Homo sapiens: one gene and its partner. The protein of the gene in region 1 interacts with the protein of each later gene in a pairwise test. Each region holds a gene or a part of one and is shown on either strand. Other genes may lie near its edges.

Region 1 (6,318 bases):
ACCATTCTGGCTAACACAGTGAAACCCCGTCTCTACTAAAAAAATACAAAAAAAATTAGCCGGCCGTAGTGGCGGGCGCCTGTAGTCCCAGCTACTCGGGAGGCTGAGGCAGGAGAATGGCGTGAACCCGGGAGGCGGAGCTTGCAGTGAGCCGAGATCGCGCCACTGCACTCCAGCCTGGGTGACAGAGCCAGATTCCGACTCAAAAAAAAAAAAAAAAAAAAAAAAAACACCAAGCGCACTCTTCCCCAAGGCTTTTCCACTTGCCATTTCCTCTACCTGAAATGCTTTTCTCCTAGATAGCCACATGGCTAGTCTTGTCTTTTCTTTTCTTTCTATTTTTTTTGATAGAGTCTCATACTCTGTTGCCCAGGCTGGAGTGCAGTGGCGCCATCTCGGCTCACTGCAACCTCCGCCTCCTGCGTTCAAGTGATTCTCCTGCCTCAGCCTCCTGCATAGCTGGGATTACAGGCATGTGCCACCACACCCAGCTAATTTTTTGTATTTTTAGTAGAGATGAGCTTTCACCATGTTGACCACGCTGGTCTCAAACTCCTGGCCTCAGGCGATCTGCCCACCTCCGCCTCCCAAAGTGCTCAGATTACAGGTGTGTTTTTTATTTTCTATCTGTTGAGTATAGTGCCTGTCACCTAGTAGGTGCTCAATAACTTAATTAATGCTTTCTCTGTGCCAGGTAACTGTGCTATGCTCCCAAAGGAGGATGTAACTGGGGCTCACGGAAGTTAATTTGCCCAAGTTAATTCAACTAAAAACTTGTGCAGGCCGAGCACGGTGGCTCACACCTCTAATCCCAGCACTTTGGAAGGCTGAGACAAGAGGATTGTTGAGGTCAGGAATTCAAGACCAGCCTGGTCAACAGAGTGAGATGTCCTCTCTAGGAAAAGAAGAAGGAAGAAGAAGTTGTACAGTCAGTATTCAAACTCAAGTTTACCTGACTCCCAAACTCTTGCTTTTTCCATATCACACGATTCTCACTATGGAAGAATGAAAGGAAACTGTAGAAGTCAAAGGATCTTGGTCTGAATTCAAGATCTTGGTTTGATCTTGGATCTTTTGCAGAAGTCAAAAGATTTTGGTTTGAATTCAATCTATATTACTTATTTTGTGACCTTGGTTCTGTCACCAGAATCTAAGCCTGTCCACATTTCTAAAAAATGTGATTGGGCTGGGTGCAGTGGCTCACGCCTGTAATCCCAGCACTTTGGGAGGCCGAGGTGAGTGGATCACTTGAGGTCAGGAGTTCGAGACCAGCCTGGCCAACATGGTGAAACCCCGTCTCTACTAAAAATACAAAAAAAAAAAAAAATTAGCAGGGCGTGATGGTGGGTGCCTGTAATCCCAGCTAGTCAGGAGGCTGAGGCAGGGAGAATTGCTTGAACCCAGGGGGCAGAGGTTGCAGTGAGCCGAGATTGCTCCATTGCACTCCAGCCTGGGCGACAGAGTGACAGACTCCATCTCAAAACAAAACAAAACAAACAAAAAAATATATATATACACATATATATACACATATATACACATATATACATGTATACACATATATATACATATATACACATATATATACACACACATATACACACACACACACACACACACACACACACACACACACACACACACACACATATATATATGATGAATACCAGCCCTGCCTATCCTGGGGTTGTTTCATTCAGTGGGATTTAACCTCAGAAGTTTTGAAATTTTGCTAAAACATCAGATAAAGGTTTATTTGAAAGGATTATTTGATTATTTTTGAAGGATTATTTGAAAACATCATATAAAGTGATGTTCTAGGTATGAAGACCCCTCCCTCTACACTGTTTCCCCAAAAGCCCTCGCACCTTTCCTCACATCTTTCATACTTTCCTCGCCACCCTTCCCTTCTCCCCCACAGTGCAGTTTTCTGCTGCAGTTCTTCACAGGTTGGTGGAAGTGTATAGGAGCCCCCTGCCTCCTGGAGCCTCTAGGACTTTAGCCAAGCCCAAGAAAGTCTCAGGAATTCCCCCCACTGCCCCCATCCTTCGTTGTGCAGGGCAGCTGAGGGGCCCCAGATCAGGGACCAGCAGAGAGAAATGCTCTGCTGGTCTCAACAGCTTTGTCATGATCTCTTGCCTGGCACAGTGATACTGTCGGCAGAAGCCCTGGCATTGCGGCGAGCAAAGCAGGCCCAGCGGCGGGCACAGCAAACACCTGTGCAACTGAGTAAGGAGCAAGAAGAGCTGATCCGGACACTCCTGGGGGCCCACACCCGCCACATGGGCACCATGTTTGAACAGTTTGTGCAGTTTAGGGTGAGCACCGACAGGATTTGGGTTGGAATACAACTAAAAGGGCACCCAAAAATGCTGGTCTGAAGGAGAGGGGTGTATGCCATGCACTGATACTGAGAACAGATCTCCAGAACCCCAGCCTGAGCAGGCTTCTCAGCAAGGAACTCTTCCAAGATAAGGCTGGCGAGGCCTAAAGGAGGGCCCTAGGGCCAGAGCCTCTAGCTAATGTTCTGATCATTGCAGCCTCCAGCTCATCTGTTCATCCATCACCAGCCCTTGCCCACCCTGGCCCCTGTGCTGCCTCTGGTCACACACTTCGCAGACATCAACACTTTCATGGTACTGCAAGTCATCAAGTTTACTAAGGACCTGCCCGTCTTCCGGTGAGTGACCTCCCCTCATCTTTCAGGAGGCAAACACTTCAGTAAATTGTATATCCACCCCGAAAAGTCACTGACTACAAATTATCACATGCGTCAGCCTTTCCAAGCATTAGGTCTTGAATTCCCAGCTTTGGTTTTAAATGTGCCAATCAGAACTGGGAGTTCTTCTCCATCTCTGAAGTACAGGCTTGCATCTAAAGTGCCCTTGAGGTGCCGCGCAGTGGCTCACACTAGTAATCCCAGCACTTTGGGAGGCGGAGGCTGGCAGATCGCTTGAGTCCAGAAGTTTGAGACCAGCCTCAGCAACATGACAAAACCCCAACTCTACAAAAAATACAAAAATTAGCTGGGCATGATGGTGGGTGCCTGTAGTCCCAGGTACTCAGGAAGCTGAAGTGGGAGGATCACTTGAGCCCAGGAGGTTGAGGCTGCAGTGAGCTCAGATAGCACCGCTGCATTCCAGCCTGGGTGACAGAGTGAGACTCTGTCTCAAAAAATGAAAGCTAAAAATAATAATAATAGGCCAGGCACGGTGGCTCATGCCTGTAATCCCAGCACTTTGAGAGGCCAAGGTGGGTGGATCACTTGAGCTCAGGAATTTGAGACCAGCCTGGCCAACATGGTGAAATCCGTCTCTACTAAAAATACAAAACTTAGCTGGGTGTGGTGGTGGGCGCCTATAATCCCAGCTTCTCAGGAGGCTGAGGCAGAAGAATCACTTGAACCCAGGAGGCGGAGGTTTGCTGTAGCCGAGATCAGGCCACTACATCCAGCCTGGGTGACAGAGCAACACTCTGTCTCAAAAATAAATTAATTAATAAGAATAATAATAAGGTGCCCTTGTCGGCTGGGCACAGTGGCTCACACCTATAATCCCAGCACTTTGGAAGGCCAAGGCAGGAGGACTGCTTGAGCCTAGGAGTTCGAGACCACCCTGGGCAACATAGTAAGACTCCATCTTTACAAAAAATAAAAACATATAAACAAACAAAAAATTAAAAAGTGGGCCGGGTGCAGTGGCTCATGCCTGTAATCCCAGCACTTTGAGAGGTCAAGGCAGGTGGATCACCTGAGGTCAGTAGTTGGAGACCAGCCTGGCCAACATGGTGAAAACCCGTCTCTACTAAAAATACAAAAAATCAGCCAGGCATGGTGGCACACGCCTGTAATCCAAGCTACTTGGGAGGCTGAGGCAGGAGAATTGCTTGAACCCAGGAGGCAGAGGTTACAGTGAGCAGAGATCACGCCACTGCACTCCAGCCAGGGTGACAGTGAGACTCTGTCTCAGAAAAAAAAAAATTGAAAAGTGTCCTTGTTTCCTGCTTTCCACAGTTCCCTGCCCATTGAAGACCAGATCTCCCTTCTCAAGGGAGCAGCTGTGGAAATCTGTCACATCGTACTCAATACCACTTTCTGTCTCCAAACACAAAACTTCCTCTGCGGGCCTCTTCGCTACACAATTGAAGATGGAGCCCGTGGTGAGATGGTGCTAGAGCAATAGGGGGCATGTGTCCTCATGGTACAGGATGTGGTCAGGTGACCTAGAGGCTCCTAATCCTAGTATCTCCCACAGTGGGGTTCCAGGTAGAGTTTTTGGAGTTGCTCTTTCACTTCCATGGAACACTACGAAAACTGCAGCTCCAAGAGCCTGAGTATGTGCTCTTGGCTGCCATGGCCCTCTTCTCTCCTGGTGAGCACCTCCCAAAGCCCAGAGCCTTTTGCTGCACCACCTCTGCCCAAATACTCAGCTCCTTGAGTCCATCCACCCAGGCCTTCTAGCCTAGCTATCAAACCTGCAGACTAGGTCTATCCCAGCCTCAGTCCCCGGGGCACCACGCAGGCCCACCCCTGCCACCCAACTTGTCCTTCCCAGCTCCCTATCTTACAGACCGACCTGGAGTTACCCAGAGAGATGAGATTGATCAGCTGCAAGAGGAGATGGCACTGACTCTGCAAAGCTACATCAAGGGCCAGCAGCGAAGGCCCCGGGATCGGTACGGTGGGACACTGAGGGCTTGGAGGCCACACCAGGGCAGGAAGGGGTTGGTGAAACATTGAGCTTGGGAGGAATGTTTTTTTACTGTCCTTTCCTTAGGGAATTCAGGTATCGTGGGGTCTAGTCCTTCCCCCTGGCCATCCCTGTCTCACATCGTTTCAGCATCCAAATTGCTGTATTTGGATACTGCTGTTTCATCTCACTTTTTCCAGATTTTTTTTTTATTCAGTACAGATGCAAAGTAGTAGCTCAGAGGCTCTGGGTAATAGCATTCCTGAGATTGATGACATCCATTACCTCACTAGTCCAACTTCTCCAGACTAACGCAGACTTTTCTCTTCCCTTGGCCTTTCCTCTCCTCGCCATTGGGCCAATTCCTTCGATTTCTCATTTCCCTTGAAGTTAGGGCCATTCACAGTTTCATGGTCAAAGCCAGTTCCAGGTTCAATAGTCTGTGATTTATCCAGGCTCTGAGGTATGCACCGCTTCTGTTTTGCTCGTTCCTCCAAGAGCTAGTTTGGCCAGAAAGGGGATGCTTTATACCATAGAACACATCCACCTTCTAGAACCTGCTCTAGAAGGCCAGGCCCTCAGATTCCACATGGTTGGAGTTCTGGCCAAGTCTGGAGCTTTCTTCACACTCGGCTCTCAGAGCTCTGGGTTCAGAAAAAACTGAGCATGGTGAGAGAAGACAGTGTCAGACCGAGGCCCCCTGGAGGACCTTTGGAACCTCTGATAGTCTGTCATACCAGAGCATGATTTTCTCTAATGTTCAGACCTGGCTTCACTGAGGAATAGTTCAGGGGATCAGGGCCTAGAGACAAGACTCCCAACTGCCTTATTTCCCTCCTGTTTTCCTGGCAACCCCACTACTTCCTCCAAAGGTTTCTGTATGCGAAGTTGCTAGGCCTGCTGGCTGAGCTCCGGAGCATTAATGAGGCCTACGGGTACCAAATCCAGCACATCCAGGGCCTGTCTGCCATGATGCCGCTGCTCCAGGAGATCTGCAGCTGAGGCCATGCTCACTTCCTTCCCCAGCTCACCTGGAACACCCTGGATACACTGGAGTGGGAAAATGCTGGGACCAAAGATTGGGCCGGGTTCAAAGGGAGCCCAGTGGTTGCAATGAAAGACTAAAGCAATAACTGCCTCTTCATGCGGTCATGGGGATAGTGGGGGTGACCATAGGAACAAAGTTGTTCTCTGGAAGCACAGAAGATGGGAAGGAGGAAACCTCAGGGCTAAGAGGTAAAGAAGCTCCTTCTGGGAATGGGTGGGCCCCACTTCCTGAGACCAAACATCTAGCCCTTCAGCCCTACTTTCCCAGCCTTGGGAGGCTCTGGGATGGAAAACAGGATGGTCAGCTAATCCCATGCAGGATTAACCAAAGGGAAAGGAAGAAGGAAGCCTGAGGGCAAGGGGTGCCGGGGGAATTCAGCCATACCCCTTAATCCTTCTCCCTTAGTCCACAGCCACAAGAGCATGGGGAAGGTGATACTGGGGCTGGTAGCAGAGGGGGGATCCTCAAACCTCTGCCTCATCAACTGCCCCTGTGGCAGCTCCAGTTCTGAGGAGGGCATGGTCCTGTCCACCACTCTGCTCCTGGGTCCTAGAGATCACCCAGCAAGGTGGGCTCTGAAGA
Region 2 (7,283 bases), on another chromosome or scaffold:
TTTAAGCTTGTTAATGGCTCTGTCTTTTTAAAAAGTAACTTAAAATGAATGTTATATAAATATATATTGAAAATTTAGTTTATACTTTCACCTCTCAGAGTGTTTGTTATACAGCTGAGCATTAGTTGCCCTTTTTGTTTTATGCATTTGTTGGCTATCTGATGTACATAACCAAATCTTAGAGAAGGGATTATTTATTATTAACTCATAACAAATGAATTAGTGAATATTGATTCTCTACCATGTGCAGTCACATATGATTTCGGTTTACTTACTATTGACAACTCATCTATATTCATCATAGGATAATAAGAAATATTGGCCAGGCATGGTGGCTCACGCCTGTAATCCTAATACTTTGGGAGGCCGAGGTGGGCAGATCACTTGAGATCAGGAGTTTGAGACTAGCCTGGCCAACGTGGAGAAACCTTGTCTCTACAAAAAAATACAAAAATTAGCCAGGCATGGTGGCGGGCATCTGTAATCCCAGCTACTTAAGAGGCTGAGGCAGGAGAATTGCTTGAACCTGGGAGGTAGAGGTTGCAGTGAACCAAGATGGCACCACTGCACTCCAGCCTTGGCAACAGAGCAAGACTCCACCTCAAAAAAAAAAAAGAAAGAAAGAAAGAAATATTAATCTTTCTAGTTGCATTCACCAGGAATGAGTTTTGGATTTCTTCTATATTCCAGATCCCTTTAAGATGTACCATGATGATGACCTGGCAGATTTGGTCTTTCCCTCCAGTGCGACAGCTGATACTTCAATATTTGCAGGACAAAATGATCCCTTGAAAGACAGTTACGGTATGGCTTCTTCAAATGGATTTATTCTGTAGGGAAGGAAAAAAATTTTTTCTTTACTCATCTTTGGTTCACTGACTAGGGCTCTGTGACAAAAGATTAACAAGAAAAAAGAGACCAAAGTTTAAAATGTGAATTTAATATGTACATGAGAGGTACCTAGGGAATGAGTAACTCCGCAAGAGGTGGCTTTAGAATTCCACCTTATATAGCTTCTTCAATAAAGAATGACAAATTTTTTTTTTGAGAGGTGAGAAGATGAAGGAAAAGACTTTTGAGTCTCTAGGGGCCGCAAATTGTGGGAGACAGGTAAATGGTAGGTAAAAGCTAGTTAGTAAAGGTTGCTGTGTAGATTCCTATGGTGCCATCTCCAGGCTAATAATAGCCTTCAGCTTAAAAAAGTCCTTATGCCAAAGTAGCGTATTTTGGGGTGGCATATTCTGGTGTCCTTTAGTTGTTTAATGCCAAACAATCAACATGGCCTTTCACACATCACCTTTGAAGCTAACCACTAAGAAAAGTCAGATTTAGGGGCTGTGGGTGTGACAAGGCTCTCTTTGGATTAATCAAAGGAGACAATTCACAGATTCACAGTTGGGCTGTCATCTCCCCTTTTTTTTGAGACAGGGTCTCACTCTGTCACCCAGGTTGGAGTGCAGTGATGCGATCACGGCCCACTGCAGCCTTGGCCTCCTGGTCAGGTGATCCTCCCACCTCAATCTCCTGAGCAGCTGGGATTACAGGTGTGTACCACTATGCCTGGCTAATTTTTTGTAGAGATGGGGTTTTGTCACGTTGCCCAGGCTGGTCTTGAACTCCTGGGCTCAAGTGATCCACCCGCTTCAGCCTCCCAAAGTGCTGAGATTACAGGCGTGAGCCTTTGCACCCAGCCACATTTTTCTACTTCTTCATTTACAGGCAGACACAGTGGCTCATGCCTGTAACCCTAGCACTTTGGGAAGCTGAGGTGACAGGATTGCTTGAGCCCAGCAATTTGAAACCAATCTGGGCAACATAGGGAGATCCTGTCCTACAAAAAATTTTAAAATTCATCCAGGCGTGGTGGCACATGCCTGTAGTCTCAGCTACTCAAGAGGCTGAGGTGGAAGGATTGCTTGAGCCCAGAAGGTCGAGGCTGCATTGAGCCATGATCATGCCACTGTACTCCAGCCTGGACAACAGAGTTGAGACCCTGTCTTAAAAAAAAAAAAAAAAAAAAAAAACCATCTGGGTGCAGTGGCACACGCCCGTAATCCCAGCACTTTGGGAGGCCAAGGCGGATGGATCACTTGAGGCCAGGAGTTCAAGACCAGCCTGGCCAAAATGGTGAAATCCCGTCTCTACTAAAAATACAAAAATTAGGCTGGGCCTAATGGCTCATGCCTGTAATCCCAGCACTTTGGGAGGCAGAGGCGGGCAGATCACCTGAGGTCAGGAGTTTGAGACCAGCCTGGCCAACATGGTGAAACCCCATCTCTACTAAAAATAGAAAAATTAGGCCGAGTGTGGTGGCTCATGCCTGTAATCCCAGCACTTTGGGAGACGGAGGTGGGCAGATCACCTGAGGTCAGGAGTTCGAGACCAGCCTGGCCAACATGGTGAAACACTGTCTCGACTAAAAATACAAAAATTAGCTGGGAGTGGTGGCAGACACCTATAATCCCAGCTACTCAGGAGGCTGAGTCAGAAGAATCACTTGAACCTGGGAGGTGGAGGTTGCAGTGAGCTGAGATTGTGCCATTGCACTCCAGCCTGGGCAACGAGCAAGAATCCATCTCAAAAATTAATAAATAAATATAATAAAAATAAGAAAATTAGCTGGGCAAACAACAACAACAACAACAACAACAAAACTGCTACAAAGTATTTTAATAAAATTGTCTTCTAATGTTGGAAAGGGAGGTGTTAATCTCATTTTGCAGATGAAGAAATTAAGACTCGCAGTTTTTTACTATAGTATATTATGTTGGTTGTGGTGTTGGAACTAGAGTTCAATCATTAATATTTTGAATCTTTATATTACCCTTTATATATTATATAGAAAGTAGCCAGTGAATGTTGATTAATGGCACTACTGGGATATACTATACCACCTACTAACAACTAGCTAAAACCTGAAGAATGTCAGCAGTGTTTCCTTTAAAACTTGTTTGCGTTGTCGGCCGGGCGCGGTGTCTCACACCTGTAATCCCAGCACGTTGGGAGGCCAAGGCGGGTGGATCATGAGGTCAGGAGTTCGAGACCAATCTGGCCAACATAGTGACACCCCATCTCTATTAAAAATACAAAAAAATTAGCCAGGTGTGGTGGTGTGTGCTTGTAGTCCCAGCTACTTGAGAGGCTGAGGCAGGAGAATGGCGTGAACCTGGGAGGCAGAGATTGCAGCGAGCCGAGATCGTGCCATTGCACTCCAGCCCAGGCGACAGTGCGAGACTCTGTCTCAAAAAAAGAAAAAAAACTTTTTTTGCATTGTTTTTTATTAGTCTGTGTCTTCCTGGCAATATATGCAGCTGATTTTAAATATCAAATACCTCTTAGGCCGGGCGCGGTGGTTCACGCCTGTAATCCCAGCACTTTGGGAGGCCGAGGCGGTTGGATCAAGAGGTCAGGAGATCGAGACTATCCGGGCTAACATGGTGAAACCCCGCCTCTACTAAAAATACAAAAAATTAGCCGGGAGCTGTGGCAGGCGCCTGTAGTCCCAGCTACTCGGGAGACTGAGGCAGGAGAATGGCGTGAACCCGGGAAGCGGAGCTTGCAGTGAGCCGAGATCACGCCACTTCACTCTGTCTGCGTGGGCAACAGAGCGAAACTCTGTCTCAAAAAAAAAACAAACAAAACAAAACAAAACAAAAATATATCAAATACCTTTTGTTTCCAATGTTTACTAAGTTTCAAAATGTATTTGTTTGTGTTTCAATATTAGGTATGTCTCCCTGCAACACAGCTGTTGTACCTCAGGGGTGGTCTGTGGAAGCCTTAAACTCTCCACACTCAGAGTCCTTTGTTTCCCCAGAGGCTGTTGCAGAACCTCCTCAGCCAACGGCAGGTAAACTATTAGAGACTCCCTTTATCAGTTAATGGTTGCAGTATTGGTAATCAATATAAATCATCAGGTGTATTTTTTAGCAGCTTACAGCAGGTATAAAAATTTCAGAACAATCACAAATGTTTTGCTTATATTAGTGATATCACCACTGGAGGAATTAAATTGTTGAACTATAACACTTAGGGTTAACGGGCACATAAATACTTTTTTTAAATTTTTTAACATATATATATTTTTTTCATCACATTTTCATTGTATTAGGTATCAGAATTTTTTTTTTTAATTCAGTACAGATTTACGGCCTGGTGTGGTGGCTCACACTTATAATCCCAGCACTTTGGGAAGCTGAGGCAGGCAGATCACTTGAGGTCAGGAGTTCCAGACCAGCCCAGCCAACATGGTGAAACCCCATTTCTACAAAAAATACAAAAATTGGTCTAGGCACGGTGGCTCACGCCTGTAATCCCAACACTTTGGGAGGCCAAGGCGGGCAGATCACCTGAGGTCAGGAGTTCGAGACCAGCCTGGCCAACATGGTGAAACCCCGTCTCTACTAAAAATACAAAAAATTAGCTGGGCGTGGTGGCAGGTGCCTGTAATCCCAGCTACTAGGGAGGCTGAGGCAGGAGAATCACTTGAAACCGGAAGGCAGAGGTTGCTGTCAGCCGAGATTGCGCCACTGCACTCCAGCCTGGGTGAAAGAGCTAAATAAATAAATAAATAAGCTCAGCGTGGTGGCGTGTACCTATAATCCCAGCTACTAGGGAGGCTGAGACAGGAGAATTGCTTGAACCCGGGAGCCGAGATCATGCTACTGCACTCCAGCTTGGGCAACAGCGTGAGACCGTGTCTCAAAAAACAAAAACAAAAATTCAGTACAGATTTAGAACTCTGGAGTTTTTCTTGATAGGAAGCATGACTGACCTGCTGTCCCACAGATTATCTTTCTAATACTAATTCTGTGCCCGTGTTATTTTTGAAGCCTATGTTTTCTCTCTTCTTTGCCATTTCTCCTCCACTACTTGTCCTCCCAGTATTTTACATCTTATTCTTCCAAGTGTTGAGACTGTCAAAGAGTAGGCAGAATATGTTACTTGACATTAGCTTCTTCTTCTTTTTTTTTTTTTTTTTTTGAGACGGACTCTTGCCCTGTCCCCCAGGCTGGAGTGCAATGCCGTGATCTCGGTTCATTGCAAACTCCGCCTCCTGGGTTCTAGCAATTCTCCTGCTTCAGCCTCCCAAGTAGCTGGGATTACAGGCGCCTGCCACTGCATGGCTAATTTCTGTATTTTTAGTAGAGACAGGGTTTCACCATGTTTGTCAGGCTGGTCTCGAACTCCTGACCTCAGATGATCCATCCGCCTCGGCCTCCCAAAGTTCTGGGATTACAGGCGTGAGCCACTGTGCCCGGCCTAACATTAATTCTTAGTTATGTGTACAGTCTTATGGTCACAAAAGCCAAATACTCTCATGCCTGAAGAAAGTAAGCATTTTTAATGCAAAGGTATGAGTAGACAATGATGTGTCCTAAATTTCCAATTTAGTTCCCTTAGAGCTAGCCAAGGAGATAGAAATGGCATCAGAAGAGAGGCCACCAGCACAAGCATTGGAAATAATGATGGGACTGAAGACTACTGACATGGCACCATCTAAAGAAACAGAGATGGCCCTCGCCAAGGACATGGCACTAGCTACAAAAACCGAGGTGGCATTGGCTAAAGATATGGAATCACCCACCAAATTAGATGTGACACTGGCCAAGGACATGCAGCCATCCATGGAATCAGATATGGCCCTAGTCAAGGACATGGAACTACCCACAGAAAAAGAAGTGGCCCTGGTTAAGGATGTCAGATGGCCCACAGAAACAGATGTATCTTCAGCCAAGAATGTGGTACTGCCCACAGAAACAGAGGTAGCCCCAGCCAAGGATGTGACACTGTTGAAAGAAACAGAGAGGGCATCTCCTATAAAAATGGACTTAGCCCCTTCCAAGGACATGGGACCACCCAAAGAAAACAAGAAAGAAACAGAGAGGGCATCTCCTATAAAAATGGACTTGGCTCCTTCCAAGGACATGGGACCACCCAAAGAAAACAAGATAGTCCCAGCCAAGGATTTGGTATTACTCTCAGAAATAGAGGTGGCACAGGCTAATGACATTATATCATCCACAGAAATATCCTCTGCTGAGAAGGTGGCTTTGTCCTCAGAAACAGAGGTAGCCCTGGCCAGGGACATGACACTGCCCCCGGAAACCAACGTGATCTTGACCAAGGATAAAGCACTACCTTTAGAAGCAGAGGTGGCCCCAGTCAAGGACATGGCTCAACTCCCAGAAACAGAAATAGCCCCGGCCAAGGATGTGGCTCCGTCCACAGTAAAAGAAGTGGGCTTGTTGAAGGACATGTCTCCACTATCAGAAACAGAAATGGCTCTGGGCAAGGATGTGACTCCACCTCCAGAAACAGAAGTAGTTCTCATCAAGAACGTATGTCTGCCTCCAGAAATGGAGGTGGCCCTGACTGAGGATCAGGTCCCAGCCCTCAAAACAGAAGCACCCCTGGCTAAGGATGGGGTTCTGACCCTGGCCAACAATGTGACTCCAGCCAAAGATGTTCCACCACTCTCAGAAACAGAGGCAACACCAGTTCCAATTAAAGACATGGAAATTGCACAAACACAAAAAGGAATAAGTGAGGATTCCCATTTAGAATCTCTGCAGGATGTGGGGCAGTCAGCTGCACCTACTTTCATGATTTCACCAGGTACGTGCTTGTGCTTATTCTCAGTATTTCTCTCTACCAGGTTGTAGTCTCGAGAAGACTAAGGACAAACATCATGCCAGGTAAAGTACAGACAGTCACACTGTACTTTGCAAGTTTATTCATACTCCTGCTCTCCTAGACAACTCTTTCCCGCCTTTACCCTCCTCCCACCTCCAACACCTTTTCTATGTTCATTCTCTGCTGATTGTCCTGTTTTTCTTGCAGATAAGTCAAGCAATAAAATAGAACATCGACAAACTTCTATTCCATTATCTACCCAACTACTTGTATCTGTATCCATGGTCTCTGCTTATGAAAGTTCCCGTTTTTATAAGTAAACTGTTCCTGCTCCTAATTAAGACCAACCTCTCCTCATTTTGCCCTAGATTCCATCTCCTCTTTCCTACTCGATATATTGCCCCATGTATTCTTCCCTTTTTTGCCCCTCATACCAATTTAAATCTTTTTTCATTGGATCATTCCCACCCATTTAACAAACGTTTGTTATTTTTCCCATCTTAAAAAACGAAACATTGACCGGGCATGGTGGCTCACACCTGTAATCCCAGCACTTTGGGCGGCCGAGGTGGGCGGATCACCTGAGGTCGGGAATTCAAGACTAGCCTGACCAACATGGAGAAACCCCGTCTCCACTAAAAATACAA

Evidence for each region.
Region 2: the proteins of NR1I3 (region 1) and MAP4 interact in a two-hybrid assay, tested with the Homo sapiens proteins (one study listed by BioGRID).

What each region holds. Positions count from the first base shown.
Region 1 is NC_000001.11:161,229,169-161,235,486, reverse strand, and holds the end of NR1I3 (nuclear receptor subfamily 1 group I member 3), read left to right. Parts: intron 1-2,148; coding exon 2,149-2,318; intron 2,319-2,540; coding exon 2,541-2,680; intron 2,681-4,012; coding exon 4,013-4,158; intron 4,159-4,241; coding exon of another isoform or gene 4,242-4,253; coding exon 4,254-4,370; intron 4,371-4,553; coding exon of another isoform or gene 4,554-4,568; coding exon 4,569-4,674; intron 4,675-4,740; exon of another isoform or gene 4,741-5,560; coding exon 5,561-5,690; 3' UTR 5,691-5,714; coding exon of another isoform or gene 5,715-5,805; 3' UTR 5,806-5,818; downstream 5,819-6,318. UniProt on the Homo sapiens protein: Binds and transactivates the retinoic acid response elements that control expression of the retinoic acid receptor beta 2 and alcohol dehydrogenase 3 genes.
Region 2 is NC_000003.12:47,915,286-47,922,568, reverse strand, and holds part of MAP4 (microtubule-associated protein 4), read left to right. Parts: intron 1-690; coding exon 691-804; intron 805-3,727; coding exon 3,728-3,850; intron 3,851-5,394; coding exon 5,395-6,618; intron 6,619-7,283. UniProt on the Homo sapiens protein: Non-neuronal microtubule-associated protein. Promotes microtubule assembly.